Regions from separate parts of the Homo sapiens genome. Here region 1 is linked to region 2. The links come from fine-mapping of genetic effects on gene expression. A gene starts in region 2. The other region holds a variant in brackets. All regions are shown on one strand. Distances are between the middles of the regions. Region 1 has its middle 2.6 kb from the start of CLLU1-AS1. Region 2 holds the start of BTG1 (BTG anti-proliferation factor 1).

What was found. PIP is the estimated chance that this variant, and not a neighbour inherited with it, causes the effect. A credible set is the group of variants that fine-mapping cannot tell apart.
Region 1: its variant is the best candidate, but not a certain one, in a credible set for the expression of BTG1 in whole blood (INTERVAL, PIP 0.67).

The regions. Positions count from the first base shown.
Region 1 is chr12:92,433,028-92,438,250 of GRCh38, forward strand. No RefSeq gene overlaps it. Among named protein-coding and RNA genes, the nearest start is that of CLLU1-AS1, 2.6 kb to the left of the region's middle. RefSeq lists enhancers at 1-163, 1,627-1,686, 1,707-1,766. The variant TCTCCTCCTC/T (reference allele first, on the strand shown) is at 1,883.
Region 2 is chr12:92,142,755-92,148,246 of GRCh38, forward strand. It overlaps BTG1 (BTG anti-proliferation factor 1), which reads right to left and starts at 3,092. Exons shown (of 2, transcript NM_001731.3): 1 at 2,634-3,092; 2 at 1-1,693. The coding sequence starts at 2,781. The coding sequence ends at 1,326. BTG1-DT (BTG1 divergent transcript) reads left to right here and starts at 3,331. Exons shown (of 3, transcript NR_135036.1): 1 at 3,331-3,489; 2 at 3,908-4,008. LINC01619 (long intergenic non-protein coding RNA 1619) reads right to left here and starts at 77. Exons shown (of 5, transcript NR_132341.1): 1 at 1-77. RefSeq lists enhancers at 1,494-1,733, 1,754-1,803, 2,064-2,113, 2,073-2,609, 3,444-3,743 and a silencer at 2,534-2,853.

The DNA of each region.
Region 1 (5,223 bases), 290 kb after region 2:
CCACACACTTTTTAGAAACCCAGATCTCATGAGAACTTACTCACTATCATGAGAACAGCAAAGAAGAAATCTGTCTCCATGATCCAATCACCTCCCACCAGGCCCCTCCTCCCACACTGGGGATTACAATTCGACATGAGATTTGGGCAGGGACACAAATCCAAACCATAACAGTTGGCAACCCTTTTTTAAAGAAAGTAATGACATCAACTCCTTGGGGATGTGGATTGGGGGAGAATATTGGAGAGGATCCAGGGGAAGTGAAGATATCAAGTTCTTTATACATAAATAGATCTATCTTTTTAGGGAAGTAGAATATGTCATTTAGGATAGGGAAAGTTGAAGATGTTACTCTATTCAGCTTTAGGGAAACTCCAAGATGTAACACTATGTCCTGTGAATATTAGTCTTGTGGAAAGTGCTCCATTGGAAGAAGACAGAAAATGTCCTGCTGCACAGAGATCCATATCTTCATGCCACGTCTTGCAAATGCAGTCAGGGAGCTTGCTCTAAATTCGTGTTGCCTTTTAGGAAGTTACAGAGCATATTTCTTTATATCTTCTTTATTTTTGCCCTTGATAGGAGACTGCCAGGGATTCAGTTATTATAATTTTACATTTATTTATCCTTTTCTGGGAGCATCTCATACCTTTTTTACTAGAGAGGCCAAGGTCACAATTAAGATTAGGGAGACAATACAGAGTCAAGACACCTGAATTTTGCCACACTACTCTTGGGCCACTTTAATTGGTGTTTCTGGGCCTCATTTTTATTACTATTATTATTAATTATTTTATGGTGTGTATAGGAGCTGGAAGATAGTGACTTCTATTAGAATTTATTCTTATAAACAATGCTGTATGGCTCTTGGATTAAGAAGTAAATAGAAAACAAAAAGGGTCTTTGAACTGCTGTCTCTTCTAGGTCTTCTCAGAGTGCTACTGGGAATTAGATGGGATTAGATGGGTGAATTTCCTTTTTCTTTTGTTTGAGAGGTCTAGATTTTTGAAGTATCTAAACCATCTTTAGATCTAAGTTAATCTCCAAAAAGCTTTATTGCCTGAAACATTCCAGTTCTAGGAAGTTTGCATTTCTCTGAGTGTAAGGGTCTGGTCTGTAACTCCTTGAGATCAGGAATGTGTCTTTTTATCCCCATAGTTCAGCGCCTACCCTAGTGTCTTCCCTACAAGTGATCATTGAATGAAGAAAGGAATAAATTCCTTCTTCTCTAACATACATCAGAGACCTCTGACCCTTATTGGGTCCCCCTTCCCTATTGATATACCTCTCCATCTCCAGACATCCACATGGCCTCCTAGGGGTATGGGATTCTTCACTCTTCTCCTGGTACAAGCTCCTTGCCTGAAATTTTTCTGACCCACCCCCATTTCTAACCGTCACAGGTTTAGATTTTCTGAAGCAAACATACAGACAGAGTTCGAGTTACAAGACATTTAATAGGAATCGACTCTTGTGAAAGGAAGAGGGGAAGATGTGGGACTGGGCTCAGTGAGAAGCCAAGCTGTGACACAATGAAAACCTCAGCCCACCCTGCACAGAGCTCAGGAATGAGTGTCACGTGTTAGAGCTGACCTGGGTCAGGTCAACATTGCTGGGTGTTTCTGCTTCTGCCTCGTTCAGTTGTCAGATGCAAGCTGACCTGGGAAGGGTTTGACTGGGCAAGATGGCTGTCTGCAGATGAGGTCAATCAGAAGGGGCTGACAGCCAAAAGTGGTTTGCTCATCTCACTACCCACAGCTGGGTGGCAAGTCCTTCAAGAGGGAGCTGGATGATGCTTCTCCACCTCTACCACACCAAACAAAGCATTTCTTTCTTATTCTTTTTCTTCCTGTCTCCCTTCCCCCTCCCCCCTCTCCCCTTT[TCTCCTCCTC/T]CTCCTCCTCCTCCTTCTTCTTCTTCTTCCTCTTTTTTCTCCTTCCTCTTTCTTTAGAGACAGGGTCTTGCTTGGTTGCCCAGGCTGGAGTGCAGTGGCAAGGTCATAGCTCACTGCAGCCTCAACCTCCTGTGTTTAAGCAATCCTCTCACCTTGGCCTCCCAAGTAGCTGGGACTACAGGCATGTGCTATCATGCCCGACTAATTTTTTAATTTTTACTAGAGACAGTCTCACTATGTTGCCTGGGCTGGAGCATTTCTATTCATGGGTTTTGTTCCTCTGGAGCTGTGCTGTTCTCTTTGATAACATGAATATGGATTTGTATTTACCCCCTTCTGGCCATCTTAACTAATGGCCCAAAGGAAGGCCAGTGGTGAAGATGTTTCTCTACAGGGAAGTTTCTAAGTGTTTCTCAGCCTACATGTGTGAGTGTATTAATGGGAATACTGGGGATAATTGGATAGAATGTATGAAATTAGGATTGGCCTAAACTATCTGGTCCAAAGTTTATCCTAGTGGCCCTAATAACATCTCCAGTGATGGTCTTTCCTGAGGTTATAGAATGAGCTATAGGAAAGAGTGATAGTACAGGAATGAGAGGATTGGATCGTCTTTTCTCTTTGTTCTATTCCTCTATGATTATTTGATTTCTTTTTTTTGTGATGGAGTCTCACTCTGTCGATTATTTGATTTTTGTTTCAGATTAAGGCCAGCTTTCTTTGACTGAGCAGACCCACGTATATGGGAAACGGCCACACACCAAATTAAACCATTCACTGACACCCGGGCACACCCATTTTCACCACTCTGCTCTTGCCCGTGCCATTGCCTTTGCATCCAAGGGATTCTTCCTTCTGTGGCAATCTGTATGACATCCTTACTAAGAAGGCCTCCCTCAGTGCCCTTGGCCCTCTCACAGCCCTTTCCATGGCCTTCTCCACTAGACTGTGAGGAACCCAGTGTCTGGAACAGTTCATGGCATTGTTGTTAGTGTTGTCATTTTGTTGTTAAGCCTTCTGCTGTCAGTGGTCATTTCATATGTTTGCATATTTACGCCCTGCCTCTTTTTGGTATGCAGTGTGGACCCTATTGCACGGCTACTTGTGTTTCAGTGGCTTTGTCCTATTCCACCTTCTATGCCACTTACTCTGAATGCCTGGCACATTGGTAGGTGCCCAATACCAACTTGGAAAGTGAATGAATTTGTTTTCTCATTACCTTTTGAAATGCCTATACAGATGTTCCTCCACTTATGATGGAGTTCATTCTGAAAAGCTCATGATAAGTAGAAGATATTATGTCAGAAATGTATTTTATTGTATTTTTTATTTTTTAATCTTTCTTTCTCTTTCTTTCTTTCTTTCATTCATTCATTCTTTCTTTCTTTCTTTTTCTTTCTTTCCTTTCATCTTTCTTTTAGTAGAGACAATGTCTCACTATATTGCCTAGGCTGGTCTTGAACTCTTGGGCTAAAAGCAATTCTCCTGCCTTGCTCTGCCAAAGGGCTGAGATTACAGGCATCAACTACTGCACCTAGTTGAAAAATGCATTTAATGCTCCAATAAACCCATCATAAAGTCAAACCATCAGCAGTCAGTGACTATCTGTATACCTTAGGACTAAGTTAGAAGTTGGAGATGGTAAAGTTTCTAAATTAGTACAAGCACAGGAGCTCTTATTCCTGCCATTTTATGAAAGTCATGTGAGTATTGGTGACCATCACTAATGGGGCTGGTAGAAACTTTAGGACCAGTCTGTCTTAGTCAGCTGGGCTGCTACAATAAAAAACCATGGACTGAGTGGGTTAAACAATGGACATTTACTTCTCACAGTTCTGGAAGATGGGAAGTCCAAGATCAAGAAGCCAACATGGCTGGATTCTGATGAGGGCTTTTTCTGGAATGCAGATGATCACCTTCTTGCCTTGTCCTCATGTGGAAGAGAGAGCAAACTCTCTAGTCTCTCTTTCTTTTCTTAAAGGACAATAATCCCATTATGGAGGCCTCATGCTCATGACCTCATCTAAACCTAGTTACTTCTTAAAGGCTCCAACTCCAAATACCATCACACTGAAGGTTAGGGTTTCCACATATAAACTTCGGAGGGACACAAACATTCGGTTCATAACAAGTGCATTCTACAGGACTCCAGGGAGTGTGTTGGCTACCCTTCATCCCACACAGCTGCAACAATCCTAATCCACTGATATCAAGTCACCATATATTTGAAATTCACTCAGTTCCCAAGAAAATATCTGCTTTCATAATCATTTCTCAGCTAAGGAATGAAAGCTATGATAAGAAAGTCTAGCACTTAGTGGGAAACAAACTTGAATTAGGCCAGGACCCCTTAAATATTGTCACTATGAAATCCAAGGGCAGTATTTACATGCTTTTCCTTCATGATGACCTTAGATTTCGCTTCTTTATGCTGCAATCAACTGAAAACATTCCACTGTTGGTAATCCTTTATCTTCTAACAAATCTAATTTAGTAGATCTTGTTACTCCTTATTTTTGAAAATATTAAACTAAACAATAAGTGATCTTTCAGGGAAATTCTGCAAGGGAAGTGGCTTCTAGAGAATGCCTCTTCTCCAAAAGGCCTAGTTCTATTTCTGATATCTAATCAGTTCTGCTCCCTTTAAATAATTACTGAAACTAGTTTATTGTTTAAATGACCTCATTTGAAAGTGGGACTTTCCCCTTTGCCTTCTTCCCTTTTAATTTCTGTTTTTAATTAATGTAAGTGCAGTCAGAACTGACGGTGTCAACCTTTCCTGTAACTGTGATTGCCACTTGTGGACATTCTGTACTCATAAGAGTGATTCTCACAAGTTCTTTAAGTTTTTTGGAAGTGCAAACCCAACAGGAAGAAAGAATAGGACTCCCTGCATTCTATTTTGCTCTGCAGTGAAGATGCATTGTTGAGTAATTTGCTTTACATTCAGATATACCCAGATTCCCATCTTCCCAATCCATGTGACTTGGCTAAGTTACAACTCTTTATAAGCCTCAATGCCTGCAACTGAATAAGAAAGTGGTAACCATCTCATGGGGCATTGGGTAAATGAGATAATACTTATGAAGTATGCAGCACACAGCCAAGAGCGTAACGTGTTCAATCAATGATATCCATTATTATTACATGTCAAATCACATCTGACTTCTGTGATTCTACTGGGGAAAAGGATGCAAAATCCTCTTGCCGTTGGGGTGTCAAATATTTTAGTACTTATTTCCAAATTCATTGGAGGGGTCTTTCCCTGAAGTTTACAGATGTGGAATACACCATTCAGGCAGGCTTTCTTCAGTAGTGCAGGTCATTTCAGG
Region 2 (5,492 bases):
CCATGGGGCAAAGTAATTGTTTTTCAAAGGTGGGTCAGAATGGAACATTTATATCTTCACTTCAACAGGGAAGCAATGAAATGTAATCCTTTGAGTATCACATTTTTGGTAGATGCTACCGTGGTCTCTTATCCTTATTTCATGAGATCATTAGCCTGTGAATGTGTCCATGTTTTGACTTTAGAAATTTTTAAAACATGCTACTCCTGTGTTTCCTGTAAAACCTAAACATGTATATACAGAGCATCTTCATTCCTCATCAAATGTTTTTCCAGCATGACCAGTGTGCAACAGAGATTCAGTTTATAGAACCTGTCTTCTAAGAAAAAATACTTTTAGCTAAACCTCTATAATCATGACAAGAGATTGATTAAAATGCCAAGATAAGAAACGATTTATTATAGAGAGAAGAAAAATTTCTCATCCAAAATATAGAAATCTGTACAACTTTGCCACAATCAATATACATGAACTGTACAAATTTACACCAGTTCATAATTTACCAAATAAAAGATGACTAACAAAGTTCACAAAATAGATGGTGGTTTGTGGAAAAGACTTTTACCCAATTAAGTACAAGGAAAGTTACAAACCAGACCTCCACTTTCTAAAAATAAGAAGTTTACTCAGTCTTAGAAAACTACAAGCTAGCAAATGTACAGAGAGCTGGCTGGTGCTAACACCACAGTTGAGACAGTGTCTTTTTAAGGGTCTTTTTTAAAGCCTGTTGCCATGGCAGATTCTGGTCACTTGCTACTTTCAAGGCCAAAAACACAATACAAGGTCTGACCATTTCCCCAGGTCATGCTTACTAGTTTGTCTTTATGTACATTTATACATATTTAAGTGCTAGGTAAAAGTCTTGTAAAATTTCCAGTACTACCATGTTTAAAACGTTTAACTTTCCTATTAAAAGCTGCCGAAAAGGTTAACAATAACAACTTTCAAGTGTAATAGTGCAAATTCCCCTGCGAGATTTACTGCAGAGAAAGATTCTTTGAAATACAGATTTTCTTTAAAAGGATTGATGTAAAAATTTAGGTATGTCTGGGAGAAACTGAAACCACCCTAGGACTTCCCTCCCTAGCAAATAAAGTGATCATTTACTTGGACTCACAGGCTATTAAAATTAATCATTGAAAGGTACTGTCCAAACTATGGCACTGTCACTTAAAATTTTTTTTTTTTTTACCATTCTATCTTGTGCCAGATCTTCACAGCTGTGACATGGTTTAAATTCCATAATCCATCCCCAAGAGGAGCCCACCCAAAGCAAAAATCAAATTTATCCATCATCATCAGATGATCCATCCACAGACTATATCTTAACCTGATACAGTCATCATATTGTAGTTTTTGGAAGGGCTCGTTCTGCCCAAGAGAAGTTCCTCCTTACAGCTGATTCGGCTGTCTACCATTTGCACGTTGGTGCTGTTTTGAGTGCTACCTCCTGCTGGTGAGGCTTCATACAGCACACAGATGGAGCCATCCTCTCCAATTCTGTAGGACACTTCATAGGGGTCAACCCAGAGTGTGAGTTCACTTGGGAGAAGCCTGAACAGCTCCTGACTGCTCAGTCCAATCCGCTGTGCTGCCTGTCCAATCAGAGGATCCATTTTATGGTTGATGCGAATACAACGGTAACCCGATCCCTTGCATGGCTTTTCTGGGAACCAGTGATGTTTATAATGTTCTATAGAAGAAAAGAAGAACAGAGAAACAACGCTTAGGATCGTTAGCTCCCACTGCGGATTCCTCCTACCCCAGGCTCCTTTGAGGAGCGAAAATGAAAACTATCAACTTTTTAAAATGTCCAGGATTGCATCCGTTGTTGTGCATGTGCGGGGATGGAAAAAGCGGGCAGGGTTTTAGAAATAACACAGTAGTACCGGACAAAACAATCTCCAGGAACCAACCGGTTGAGCCGCCAAAACAGGAATCAGGCGCGCAGCCTCGGCCAGTCGGGAAGCCACTGGCACCTATGGCCAGGCGAGAAACTGTTTACTTTCTCCACCCCACCCCAGATGCACACAATGGAGTTGATGGCTTTGGAGATGAGAAGCGCCACCGGACTGTTAACCCCGAAGGGAAGAAAAACAAGCAACCCTAAACCACGCTCTGGGCAGGGCTGTTAATTGTGCCGGTGACAAATCCGATGATTAATGGGCAGGGGCAGGAGGCGCGGGGAGACGGCACGTCCGTTCTGAGCTGGCTCCGGGGCAGCGGCGCAGCTTCCCACCCCGGGGCTGGGCCGCCGACCACGCAACGGTTGGAGGGGGCTGAGGAAAGGGGACGTCGAACCCACCCCAGCCCCACGGCTCCTTTGTCCCCAAATCCGCCGACGGTCCTCGGACCGCAGCTCCCGCCTCGGTGGGCTTAAGTTTCTTTGTTGTGCGTGTTGTCTTCTCCTCTCCGTTTTGCCAGCTGGGGGGAAGGGGGCGCCCTCCGTCCAGCCCCTAAAGCCTCGCGGGGAACCGCTGTTAGCGGCCACCCAGCGCAACCACACCGGTCCCGCGGCGGGGCCCAAGCGCGACCGGCCCCGGGGCGCTGCCGAGGTTCCCGCAGCCCCGACGGCCGGACTCTGACCCAGGGATGTGGGGCCCGCGTCCCTCCGACGCCCTCGCCCTGCTCACCTGCCAGCAGCTCCTGCAGGCTCTGGCTGAAGGTCTGCAGCTGTCGCTCGCTCGTGAGCCCCTTGGTGCGGAGAAACTTGGAGATGAAGGACACGGCGGCGGCGATCTCGCCTATCATGGTGGCGGCCCGGGTGTAGAAGGGATGCATGGGGGCGGCGTGCGGGGGCGGCCCGGGGCGGCTGGGGCTCGGCGGCGCGGCCCCGACGGCGGAGCAGCCACCCCGGGCTTCCTCACCGGGCGGAAGGCTGAGAGGAAGAGAGGGCGTGAGGGGCGGACGACTACTTTTGTCTTTCTTTCTTTAGACTAAAAAAGTTATTTTCGAGACAGGAGGCGGCAGGAGAGAGGAAGAGACGAGCGATGGCGGCCTGGTCACATCGCTCGGACCTCCCCAGCTGCCTCCGCCTCCAGCTCCGCAGCATTCGAAGATCTCAATAGCTGCATTTCCAGCTCCGAGAGGCGAAGAGATGCAAGCGCCGTGCAGCACCCTTTATAGTGCCACGAAAAGGAAGTGGCGTAGCTGGAGCGTGATGGCCGACTCCAGCCAATCCGAATATCGCACCATTGTGACGCAAGCCGGTTCGGAGCCGAAAGGGGCGGGAAAAGAGTTCAGGAGGCGGGTCCAGAGATAGGGAAGAGAGGGAGGAGCTGACGTAATCCGCTTGTAAACAAATAAACCCGGAGTGGCGGCTGGAGACCCAGTTGCTTGTGTCGAGGGAGGGAGGGAGGGAACAGAGGGTGCGCGTGTGAAAGCTCCGCCCCCAGCCCTAGCTCCTCCTTCCCGCTTCAGCAGGTCCAGGCTCTGCGCCAGTGCATCCTTCTCCAAGAGTGCGCTGCCTGGGCCCGCTTGCCCTGGAGTGTAAGTGCTGGGTAAATAAGAACCGCCTGGCGCAGGCTGTGTCTACTCTTCACGCCGCCTTCTCAGATCGGGCTGCATGTCCCCACTCCGTGTTTACATCTCGTTCCCGCTCCGGGTCTCGGTGACTGGCTCCTCAAGCCGGAGACGCGTGTGGTGCGGCGCGATGCGGGCGCCAGCGCTGTGTGTGCTGGCGGTGCGCTGCCTTAGTGCGGGGGAAAGTGGAGGGAACGGTCCTGCGGGGCGTTCTGTCCAAGAAAAAGGACTGCAGCCTCGGGGAGCCAGGGTCCCCTCGCAGACGAGCTGCCAACGCCGCGGAGCCATTTCTGTTCCACCCTAGGGGAGGAGTAGGGGGATATCTTTTAAAAGTTTAATTGCAAAATAAGTAGGTTAGTAAGGCCATTTGTGGTTGCTGTTTCAGTAACTTCAGCAGTCAACGGAGAGAAGAGTGGAAACCTTACTGGATGCGGACAGGAGAGCCAGTTACTGAAAGCAGATATAACGCGGATCCTGTAAAGAGTGGTGTGTATCCAAAAAAAAAAAATCTGTACAATGTATTTTAAAACTTGTGTGCACAAAACTGAAGATTTTCTTTTTTACCTAGTCCAAATGCCGTCCTAGCCTGAGTCCTGCTCTTTATAAAAATAAAATAAAAAGAATTTGAAGCTTGTGAAAGTATTAAGTGTAGACATTCAAGTTTATTTGAAACCCTACCAAAAAAAAAAAAAAACAACCTTAAAAACCAGTGTAACAGGAAGGCGGGAGCCTGCTAAAACGATTAGGCCTAAGACAGGGTTAACCCCAACTCCATTAAGGAGAAGGGGGAAAAGAAAAAAAGAAAGATGAAGGGAGGCAGGCAGATGGAGAAAGCAAACAGGAGGCAGAAGTTGAACTCTACCAGATGGAAATAAATATCCCGACCTTAGTTGATCATCAATATTGCAAAACACACCACTTTGAGTGTTTTTTTTTTCTTTTTAATACTGAGCTAAAGGATATAGAAATGAAGCAAAAATAATGACATTATAAAACAGGAGAAAACGTTTTATTGTTTAAAAAATATGTAAAACTCGATTTGAAAAAATAACTTCTAGATTATTTTTTCATTAGTACACATAACTAAGTAGTTACATGTGAAAAAATTAAAGAGTGGTTTTTTTTTTTCTTATAGAACTTTTCAGATAGAACTCTGCTTAAAAATAGTAATTTCACTGGAGGCATGAAACCTCTTTTACTACTCAAAAAGAAGATCGAGAAGCAAAAGTAAATTCATGAAATTACCATAACACTAGAATAACAACTCCTGGTCTCCCACCTAACCTGACCCACCCTTAGTTCCCTGCTTTCACTTACATTGTCGTTAATGTGTCACTGAGTACAAATTAGGAGTCAAGTGAAAGTTTTTCTCTTCTAAACCTGGTCTCCAACTTGGCCTCTCGGTCATGTGCTTAAATTGTCTCATCTAAAAAACAGAAATATTAAATCAACAAAATGCTAGGATTGGACTCAGACTTCCCCCAAGCCCTTGTTCTCCATACTATTTTTAACTGCCTGCACTAGCAGCAGCAGGACCCCTTCTGAAAGCCTTATAAAACCAGTTGAACAGGGTTAACAGAAAGTTTAACCCATAGACTCAGGGAGAGTTACTTCCCGCACTGAGTTTTTCAAATTATATATGTGTGTTTCCCACCTTAAATCATCCCATTAGGAGACAAACTGATTTGAGAAACTACAGTAATTTTTAACTTGGGAATCTACAGAGTACTCAGAAAAAAACTGGAAATAAACATTAGTCTTAAACGTAAGCCTTAGATGGTACATAATGTTCATTGCTAATAGTTTTCAATTCCTGACATATATATGTTTAGTCACATTTTCTGGAAGTTTAGTCAGGCCCTTCCCATCTGGGAAACAAGCAGGTATTTCTGGACAGCTTTTGAATTACAAAGGTGCTTTCTGTGTTGTTGTGCTAAGTTTACCAAGGCTCTCCCAAGTACTTTATTATT